2 separate regions of the Homo sapiens genome follow, and region 1 is linked to region 2. Evidence: fine-mapped expression QTL. A gene starts in region 2. The other region holds a variant in brackets. All regions are shown on one strand. Distances are between the middles of the regions.

Evidence for each region. PIP is the estimated chance that this variant, and not a neighbour inherited with it, causes the effect. A credible set is the group of variants that fine-mapping cannot tell apart.
Region 1: its variant is the best candidate, but not a certain one, in a credible set for the expression of RASSF8 in skeletal muscle (GTEx, PIP 0.57).

What each region holds. Positions count from the first base shown.
Region 1 is chr12:26,066,445-26,071,814 of GRCh38, forward strand. RASSF8 (Ras association domain family member 8) reads left to right here. Exons shown (of 6, transcript NM_001394098.1): 5 at 1,125-1,269; 6 at 2,253-5,370. The coding sequence ends at 2,374. Among named protein-coding and RNA genes, the nearest start is that of BHLHE41, 56 kb to the right of the region's middle. The variant A/G (reference allele first, on the strand shown) is at 3,391.
Region 2 is chr12:25,956,428-25,961,807 of GRCh38, forward strand. RASSF8 (Ras association domain family member 8) reads left to right here and starts at 2,255. Exons shown (of 6, transcript NM_001394098.1): 1 at 2,255-2,721. It overlaps RASSF8-AS1 (RASSF8 antisense RNA 1), which reads right to left and starts at 3,015. Exons shown (of 4, transcript NR_038228.1): 1 at 2,899-3,015; 2 at 212-337. RefSeq lists silencers at 1,867-2,356, 2,457-2,556, 2,627-2,676, 2,817-2,866.

The sequences.
Region 1 (5,370 bases), 110 kb after region 2:
TTCTCCGTCATTATCTGTAGTAAGAGATAAAACTACCACCCAAATTTTGAAAATCAAGAATTTCTCATGCAGTAGAAGCTTGTCAGCCTCTAATTTGTCAGTATTTTACTATTGGGATTCATTTTGACATTTAAAAAAAGGTACAAGTGGAAGTTGTGTTGCTTTTGATATCACAGAAAACACTAACTTATCACAGTCATTACTAGCAAATCCCTCTACCCACTGAAAAGTGTCTGATAATCAAATATTGATATATCCCCAAGTACCCCCTACACTCAAATAAGTGGAGAAAACAACCATTCACTTCTAATCTCTTCCCAACCCCTACCAAATCCTTGGGACCCACCCAGCCTGGGTAGAGCCAGGGTACTTTTTCTTATATACAGTAGAGGAAAGAAAGAAATGAAAAGCTGTTTAAATAATAGGATGCCCCTCCTTGCTTTTACAGCTTTCCAGCTATCCAAACTTGATCTCCTTCTGTAGGACTCTGTAGTTCTCAGATCTTTGTCAAGGATTTAGGAATTCCATAGTGAGAATCTTGTGGGAATCTTGCTTTCCTCATGCTGTAAGATAAATCTCAATAATGTATCCCATGAAAATTGAAACAGCTTACAAAAACAAGAACTCTAAATCCATGGAACAAATTACAATTAACTTTGTAGTTATAAGTTAATATGAAGTGGTTAATATGTAAATTTGTGACCAGCTTAGCAAGATTGCTGCAACACAGAGATGGGTAAAAACCTGTGGGGTTTTTTCTTTTTATTTTCCACCAATGAGTTTACAGACTGAGAAACCCATTTTTGTTTTTGTTTTTTAATGAAAGTTTATAGACATATTTATTTCAGAAGGGTGCATAATGGTTTTCCAGAGGAAAGCATCACATTTAAGAGGACAGACTAATGAAACTGTTGTCTTCCCTTGGCTTATTTCTTGGCCTACACCACAGAGTGAAAGTGACCTCTTTAGCCCATTGTGTCAATATAAACCAGATTTGTTAAATGTGCTTTTATGAAAGCAGATGTTGCACATTTAACCCCTGTAGCAGATGGATCCTCACAAAGATGTCTTGCACTGTCCAGTAGTGAATCCTCAAATTTAAAAAAATAATAATTTCCATCTAGGACAAAGAACAGGAACTGGAGCAGTTGACTAAGGAGTTGCGGCAAGTCAATCTCCAGCAGTTCATCCAGCAGACAGGGACAAAAGTTACCGTTTTGCCAGCGGAGCCCATTGAAATAGAGGCCTCACATGCAGACATTGAAAGGGGTAAGATGTTGATAAATATGGTTTATTTTCCCTTTATTCTCACTGCTTAACTTTTTTTGTTTTTGTTTTTTGAGATAGTATCACTGTATCGCCCAGGCTGGAATGCCAGGGGTATTACCACGGCTTACTGCAGCCTCGACCTCCTGGGCTCAGGTGACCCTCCTACCTCAGCCTCCTGTAGCCGGGGCTACAGGTGCATGCCACCATACCTGGCTGATTTTCTTTTTTTGTATTTCTTGTAGAGATGAGGTTTCATCATATTGCCCAGACTAGTCTCAAACTCCTGAGCTCAAGTGATATGCCTGCCTCAGCTTCCCAAAGTGCTGGGATGACAGGCATGAACCAGCATGCCCGACCATCTGCTTAACTTTGAATAAACTACTTGTATTCAGTTAAAATATTACCCTAACATTCATAGCTAATTTTTAAGTGGGACACTTAAAAATTCTTTTTTTAAAAAAATATTTCCCATTTCTAGAGGAAAACCAGTAACATTTAGGTTATTTATTTACTTAGGTGAGCATGTAATCACCAAATGTCATATCATTAGTTTGAAACTACTTCTTTATTAAAACTTTTTTCTGAAGTATATATGAGTTATAGTCTATTAATTTGAATTTTGGCTTCTCTGTTCCTTATGCCCCCCTTTTCCTTCTTTTTCTTCTAAAAGTTATTATTAATTTGTGCTGATATTTAAAAGACAATTCCAAATCTGTGTATGCATATGGTGTGAACAACCAAAAAAAGAAGCAGAATATTCACCTTTTGTAAAGATCATTCACTGTTCAAATCAACAAAAACTAGTTTATCAAAGAGACCTGAGAAGGTTTTAGCCTTCTCCCCCAGCCCAGGGCACACAGGGGATTGCAATTATTGCTCTATGCAGTTTTCCCTTTTGGGGTAGGAAGCAGTCTGATTTTTTATATTGCTAAGTACTCCAAGTTGACGAGCTCATCAGGTGGCTCTCTTTGTTTCCTGTTTAGAGGCACCATTCCAGTCTGGGTCCCTGAAGCGACCTGGTTCATCTCGGCAGCTCCCCAGTAATCTCCGCATTCTGCAGAATCCTATCTCATCTGGTTTTAATCCTGAAGGCATATATGTATGACATTATCTGTCTTTAGGGAGGAGACCCAACAGAGGTACCAAGGACAGTAAACTTCCTTTTTGATTTGTGCCAATGATGAACAGAGGATCTATTCCACAAGACGCTGTATGTTTTTTCTCTCCTAAATTGCATACCACTTGGAGCCATACCCTGTGCACTGATGCTAAAGAACAAAGAAACTGTGTTTTCACACATCAACAGTGTTGATATTTTTGTCCAGCAGCTATAATGCAAAGCCTTCGTTTTTATTTGTAGCATTTTGAGAGCTTTAGGAAAGTATTATATAGTGTGTATACATAAATAAGCCGTGACTTAAGTAAGAGTGAAGAGAAATTTGTGACTGGCTTAGTTTAATTTATTTCATGTAATCAATGTGTGAATGTTGATGTTTTAATATTTTTATTGACTTATCCTGTGACTGACTTACGTTACATATTGTGTGATTATGACCGTGTGCATGTTGCCAGACTCCATCCATGCATTGCTGATTTACACTACACAAGTGTCCTAGGGTGCTCCACCATCGAAGCTAACTCCACAGGAAGCCACTTGCATTTGTTTTGTGAAACTGTCCTAGCCATTGCTTAATTAGGTGAAATAATTCAGGGTTTTTTAAATCTGGAATTTAGTCGTTCCTTTACAATATTTCCAAATATACGTGTGGCCACAGAGCATAACAGATATTTTTCATAAGCTAAATTGTATGTATAAAACATTTGCAGTGTTTCAGACACTGTTGAACAAAAATGTAATTGGTAAGTATGTATCCAAACAGGCATGGGGTTTCCTGATACATTATGTGTTTTGTTTCTGCCCTGTCTTATCATTTACACTCATGGATCTTCAGAATTAATCTAACATGGAAGTTATAGATACCTGAAAGCTGGGTTGGTCTACTTCAGGAACATTGCTTTAAGTGATGTATTTTAAAATAACCCGCTTCATATGTATGATCTGTTGGTGTACACACCATGGGTAAGGTATTGCTTGCACATAATTTGCTCTGCATATTATGG[A/G]CCATTGTGGTTTCTTCCAGTCACTTAGATGGAAAGGAGGTTAAACCTAGGTACTTTTTAGCAAGGATATAAAGTCAAATTCAGCATATGTTTTTATTTTTAGGCTTGACTTTTACAAGACATTAATCTCCATTTGTACATATGTTATTTTATTTGTAAAACCAAATATGACTCAACACCTTTTTGATGAGTAGTGACTTAACTAAGATTTACAAGTAATATTTAGACAGATTCAGTCAGACACCACTTAGCCATTTTTACATTCCCTCTGGTTAGATTTGGTACAGTATAATTAAGACTTTAATCTGAAATTTAAAGTAGTTTTAATTCTGAAGAAGTTACATCCTCTGTATTATTTACATGCAACAAAATAAAAGTGGATTAATATAGTAATGCCATGGTAACAATAGAGCTATGTCTTATGCATGAAGGCAACTTTGGATGTTTTAACACATTTGACTGACTTTGGTTTAGTGAATGCTGACAATGCTGCTCTACTTAGGTTTCCTATGAAATTTTTAAGAATGGCTATGAGACTGTATAGAAGCTTCTAGAGAACTGAAAGTCATAATGCAGAGTTGCCTTTTCTAGTGCAGCTAAGTGGCGGACCTCAACTGAAGATATGAGTTTCTTTGGGTTCTTGGAGTTATCAAATTGATCTTGCCATTATGTTACTTTGCAAATAACTGAAGTAAATGATTCTTACCTAAATAACCACAACCTGTACACATTTGCTCACAATTTATAGTAGTTATTTTCTATCTACCTATATTTAAAATTAGGATGATTAAAAAATAATTTATAGATTTTGTGACAGTAATGATTTACATATGCCCAATATATGCCTTATTTTTAAATAAGTCATTCTGTATAAAGTCATTTTGTTGTTGTTCAGAGAAATCAAGATCTTATTCACAAAGAAAAACATTTTATAAATTGATCGCATTTTCTTTAAGTCAAAATGTTAAACTGGAGGCAGTATTAAACTTTGCAATTAGGAGTTTCAGAGATGCCTTGGCATACCACGAAAAACACTGTCAATATCCAACTCATTATAAATTGTTATCAGAATTAACCTAATAACTTTAAGTAAGGACAAGCAGCATCCTAGCAACTTGTAGTAGTCTTGGGTTCCCAGCAGAGTATCACAGTTAACCTCTCTGACAACTTCATCAGAATTTCCAAGCTGCCAAATAATCTTCATAGACCTAATTACAGATTTAAAAAAATTTCCTAGGCGACGAAAGTATAGAAATGTGAATATGTTGAATACATTGAGAAGCTGTACTTTTTAATTAGTTATATTACTTCTGGAAGCACATATCTAAGGAATATTTTCTAAGACTCAGAGGGAAAAAAACTCGTTTTCATAGGATCATCTGAAGATACTTTAGTATATTTGTGATCATTTTTATCTATTGCAAATACAAATGAATTAGATAAGTGCCACATCCTGGATACATTTCGGAGGGGTAGTGGGCAATGGTATACAAAAATACCAAATATAAAATTTTCATCTGGGGGAATGTTCAGGTTCTAAATACTAAATTAGATTTCAATGTTTTGTGTTTTTTTTAAAAAAATCATATTGCAACTTGTTTTATTGTGATTTTCTACAAGTATTAAATACATTTAAAGATCTTTTTATCTTACCAAGAAATAATTTGGAATAGCATTGGTATATTTGACCTTTTGAGTGTCTGTCATCCTCAGAGAATGGCCCATAGTGTGTTGCCTGTGGACATAGTGTCCATAGTCCCTTTCTTGTCCTTCTGAGATATTTTGGTTTGATAACATTTTGTTTTTTGTCTTGATGCACAGGGACTTTTTTATAATATGAGACTTCAGTTGGTATTAATAGGAGTTACCTATTTAATTCTCCCAGTCATCAATGAGGTAATCATCAATTCCTATAGTTCAAATTAGTCATAAACAAGAGCTACAGCAAGACTGATAGAGTAAAAACTATATAAATACAGT
Region 2 (5,380 bases):
GGTAAAGATTTTTCTGCACTTATCCAGCACTGAATGGAGGCAAATTCACTGACTTTGGCAGCCATCAGTAAGACTGGAGGTGAGGATACCTGGATTTTTAGGAAGGGTTTTTCCTAAATAGTAGGTATTGTTATCCAATCAGGAAGTTCTGTCCTGATATAAATGCTCATCATATAAGAGTTAGTTATCAAGAGTCAGTCAACTTGCTCACCTCTAGATGTGGTAATACTGAGGTCCAGATCCTCCTGGTGATCAACACAAACTGGATTAAGAGTCAGCTACTCAGTCAGATCCTGAATCCTGGTCCAACGATAACCACACTCTTGCCTGCTACCTGCTTCAAGAAGTACACAAAAGAGGGATCACTACCACAGCCAAAGAAAGGAGGAAAGTTTTTTTTTTTTTTTTTTTTTTTTTTTTGAGATGGAGTTTCGCTCTTGTTGCCCAGGCTGGGGTGCAATGGCGTGATCTCGGCTCACTGCAACCTCTGCCTCCCAGGTTCAAGCGATTCTCCTGCCTCAGCCTCCCAGTTGCTGGGATTGCAGGCATGTGCCACCATGCCCGGCTAATTTTGTATTTTTAGTAGAGACGGGGTTTCTCCATGTTGGTCAGGCTGGTCTCGAACTCCCAACCTCAGGCAATCTGCCAGCCTTGGCCTCCCAAAGTGCTGGGGTTATAGGCATGAGCCACCGCGCCCGGCCAAAAGGCAGAAAGTTCTAAGAAGGAGAGGTCAACATTGGCAAATGCCACAAAGGGCACAAGATGGGAATTAAATTTTTCCATTAGATTTGGCAATTAAGCAATGGCTGATGTTGTTCAGTGGAGTGAAAGGCTGAGAAGGGAATGAGAGGTTAGGAAACATTCACCTTAAGGCTAGGCAACTCCTTTGAAAAGAGTCAAGTAGGGTTAAGGGAGGATCCATGCCCTCCAGGTTGACTTTTAAATCATATTCCCTTTGGTTTTGCATTTGAATCACAGTGAACTTTCTCCTCTCCAAATGTTGATTTGACAAATTTGAGTCTTACCATGGCTCTCTTCTCAGTCCACCTGCAGGTCAAGGAACTAATGAGGTGTGGAGTAACTAAAGGTCAAAAAACAAGAGGAAGAAACAAAGGGCCAAAAAACCCCAAACCTTAAATCAGGTCCTGAGTCAGATACGCTGTAACAAATTCTGCTTCAAGTTTAATATTCTTGTTTTGATGATGTTTAAAAAAAGAAAAATAAAAGCAAGTGTCTGGAAAATTAAAAGGCGGGGTGGGGGGGGGCATTTTAATTGGAATGCTTTCTTGTATCTCATCCACTATCCGCACCCCATCGCCCTGCAAATTAATAGCTGTTGCGGAGTTGGGGTATGTGTGACCACAAAATCCAAAGGCTGAATTTTGCCCAGTGCCTGAGTAATTGCATGCCACACACAAAAAAACAGTAGAATATTGAAAACAACATACACATCTGTATTTCCATATGAAAGCACCCGTTTCCTTTCTTGATTATCTGCTATTTTTAAAGGGGTTGGGAGTGCAGCGGGGCGGGGGGATGAGGCGTTTTTTCTGAATACGAGCCCAGCTCTTTCTAAACTTTTGTTACTCACGTCCGTTTGATTCATTTGCTGTGTTTTTTCTTTCTTTCTTTTTTTTTTTCCCCTCTCCTGCCTCTGTCATTGCCTGCTGCTAAGAGGGACGCTGAATCACAGCCACTGCAGATGAAAAGCAATTCAAACCCAGTCCTTGGAGGGGGGATGGAACGGCTCTTTTTGATTTTTTTCCCCTCTGCAGAAAAAGCCTCCTACTTTCCGGGTGACCGTAGAGGGCAGTTTGACAAGTCTCAGCCCCGGGCGATGGAAGATTTTGCCCGTGGGACCGTCACGAGCCACCGGTCATCTCCCCGCGCCCGGCTTTCGGGTCCTCAGGCCTCGGTGCGTCGCGGGCCAGGCGACAGCGGGGGGGCGTCGCGGGCCGGGCGAGCGTGGCCCGGTGGGCCCGAGGGTCGCGCCGAGCTCCCCGCCGCTTTAAAAGCTCCCACAATGCAGCGCTGGCGTCCCAGTTCCGTTACGAGGTCTCTCCCGGCGCCGGCGAGCGGGCCAGGCGCGGGCGGGGCGCGGAGGAGCGGCGGCTGAAACCCGAGCGCCCGGCCGAGGGGGGCGCCCCCGCGCCGCTCCTCTCGCGCGCTCAGCCGCTGCCCGGCGAAGGGGCGGAGCCGCCTGGCCGCCCGGCCCGGCCCGGCCCGGCCCGGCCCCCAGCCCGGCCCCCAGCCCAGAGGCACCGGCCGCGGGAGCGAGCGGGTCGCCGACTCCTACGCCCGCGCTCCTCCTACGCCCGCGCTCGTCCGGCGCCCCGCGCCGCGCCCCGCTCAGCGTCTGCCGCCCAGCTCCTCGCCCAGCCTCGCCGAGCCTCGCCCTTCCCGCCCGCGGCGGCGTTGGCGCTGGGGGCGGCTCCCGCGGCGTCTCTGCCGCTGGCCGAGCGCTCGCGCACCGCGGCACCCCCGCCAGTGGCGTCCACACTCACCTAGCGCGGGCCGGGAGGTGCGCGGAGAGGGAACGCCGGGGGGCCGGGGCCTCCAGCCGGTGCGGGGCGCGCGGCGCGGGGAGCGCCGGGGAGTGCCGGGGAGTGCGGCGCGGGGACGGGCGCTGGGCGGCCGCGGAGCTCCGGGTGCCGCCGCGTCCCCAGCGCCCCGGCCGGCCCCTCTGGGCGGCCTGCGGGGGCGGCGCAGTTGCGAAACTGAGTAAGTATTAACTTTACTTAGCGGCGGCGATCCGGGCTGCGCCGGGGACCCCGCCCGTCCCGCCTGCAGCCTCGGAGCTGCCCTCCGCCCGGTTGCCCCTCTCTCCGCACCTTGGGTACCTCGTCCGTTCCGCCCCCACCCTGCCCCGCCGCGGGCTCCCGCTCCCTCTGCGTTCACCTTTCCTGGTGTGTCACCCTTTGCGCCTCTCCTCGCGGCACACAAGCCGCGGACTGAAAAGTACGAGCTTGGTCTTTGCTTTTCTGCTTCCTCCCAGTGTCCTTGGCAAGGGAGTTTAGAGGCCACTTTTCTTGCAAAGGGAATTTTATGTCTGGTTTTTAAAATATTTTTTCCTCCGGATGGAAATCGGATGCTCGCTTGCCGGGTGGCGGTTTGGTGAACGCTTTTCTCCTCTAAAAAAATATTGGTTTATAGGTTTTTAAATTTCATTTGAACTATTAACCATCTGCATTCTATTCTCCTTTGCCGCCAGTCCCTTTGGGGAGGGGAGTCCAGAAGAGGGGACGTTCAAAGTAATTCTGACTTGCAAACTAGAAAGTTTGAGAGGGTAAATCGCACAAAGCCGGAAGATTCAACTTGAAGGGACGCGAGCTTTGAATGTGGGTCCTGGTGCGGCACTGGGTTTTAAAAGATGAGTACTTGGGTTCGGAATCCAGTGTTGCGTTGTTATTTTAGCATCATAGAGCCGCCTGGTGTTGCTAAACCACTACTTTCCCAGCCTCAAATGGCATCTTGAACAGTGCAACGTAGGATATATAATTGCGGGTCAATATTGTTGCTGATCTTTAGGGATTTAGAAGCGAAATGAATGCAAATCACGTCTCATAGCTGACTTAAACCTGTCAGGTTAGCCCTGTCAGGTTAGCATTAAAGCATTTCATTAAAAAAAAAAATCCTCTAGCCCTGTGACAGCAGGGACGAACATTTATGGATTTTCCAGTAGATTGTGGCTCAGCAATTCATTAGATCTGCTTTGTCCCCAGGAAGCATTTTAAAATATGTATAAATCTCTGCTTTTCTCTCCATTAGATTAACCACTCATTCTGGTAGGGGGCCCCAGGTAGTTTTTATTTTCTTTTTTGCCTTTCATCTTGGAGTTGCCAGGAGTTGCCATCATGTTATGAAGGAACAGAAAATGAGAAGCTTTCTTAATGGGTTTTCGACATCCTGTCCTTTGCCAGAGTGAGGCGGTAGTGAATGCCAGCCAGCTTTCTGCAGGGAGAGGTGCAGGGTGGACGCAAAAATCAGGACGCAGGAGACAGCACTATCATTTGGGGAAGTGGTTTGTGTGAGTTTTATCTTTTAGCGGGCATACTAATGGTACTTTTAATTTTATTTATCTCTATGAGGCACACTCCCCAAACCATAAAATTACACATGACCATCCCCCACTTGAAGAAGACTGAACATAGTTTGATGATTATTCTATTCAAGGATCAAGTACAACAAAATATAATTTGTAATACAGATGATAAAACCTTTCAAAAATCTCCCCCTTCCTCATTTTTTTCCTCAAGAGTCTCCAGGTGGTACTTTCTGTGATGGACACAATTGGCAGTAATGCACTGAGTTCTTTCTAGGTTTATTGATCAAATCTTATGTCTGGGCTTTAGTAGCTTAGGGGTGCATTAGAGGGCCCTGAGAGGGAGCAAATCATGGGGCTGTGCAGGCAGGAAAGGCACTTCACTTTGCAGAAGTGTCAGTGTGCTTCTGGAAAAAACAGTTACAAAGAACAGAGAGTGTTTAAGTTGTTTATAGGATGCATGTTTCCTGAATTTGGCATTTGGTTCAGATATTTGGTAATTACAGATTTAAAATTCGACATGGTTGTATAATTTGTTTTGCCTTTTATTTATTTTTTTAAGGTTGCAACCTTTTAACCTGAATCTTCAGTGTTTGGCTCTTGTAGGCTTCTATACGTGGTGACTTACGTCAGTTTTTGACCTGACTGCCTTGTGTTTTGAGAAATGATTAGTTCTTCAGGGTTTCTGACTCATTAATTGATCTGTTTTATGTTGATGTATATAATGACTTGGAAGTAAAAATATTGTTTGCCGTGGGATATTGTTGTCTTTTTCTTATGGTTAATTCCTGGCATAATGGCTTTGCTCCTTTATTATAAAACATTAAGATCTTAGATATCTTGCTAGTGTTCAAAACATTACAAAACTCTTTGCAAGTAAAAGTGGAGTGGGAATGGGAGTTGGATAGAAAAACATGCATCATAAATTAAAGATTTGGATTACAAAATAATATAACGTTTATTTACTCTTCTTTGATGCTAACTTGCTCTAACCCTAAATAGACTTAAAAATTCAAAGTGTAGAGAGAGTTTCCAAGTATTCTGTATAGTGGAAAGAATGTTTACCCCACTGCCAGCCAGACTTGGGTTGCACGTGTGACTTTGTCACTCCCGAGGTGAGTGAGCTCGGCCATGCCACTTCAGCCTCTGTGATCTACAGTTGCATTTCTGGAAAATGGGGATACCACTACTTAAAGGGATGCTATGGTGAGTAGAACATCTAATATATATTAGATGTGCCTGGCACATTTCAGCCAATAAATGACAACATCTCAAACTCCTTCAGAATTGAGCTCTTGGTCACTCAAACTTTCAAACTGTTCCCCCTCCATTTTTCAT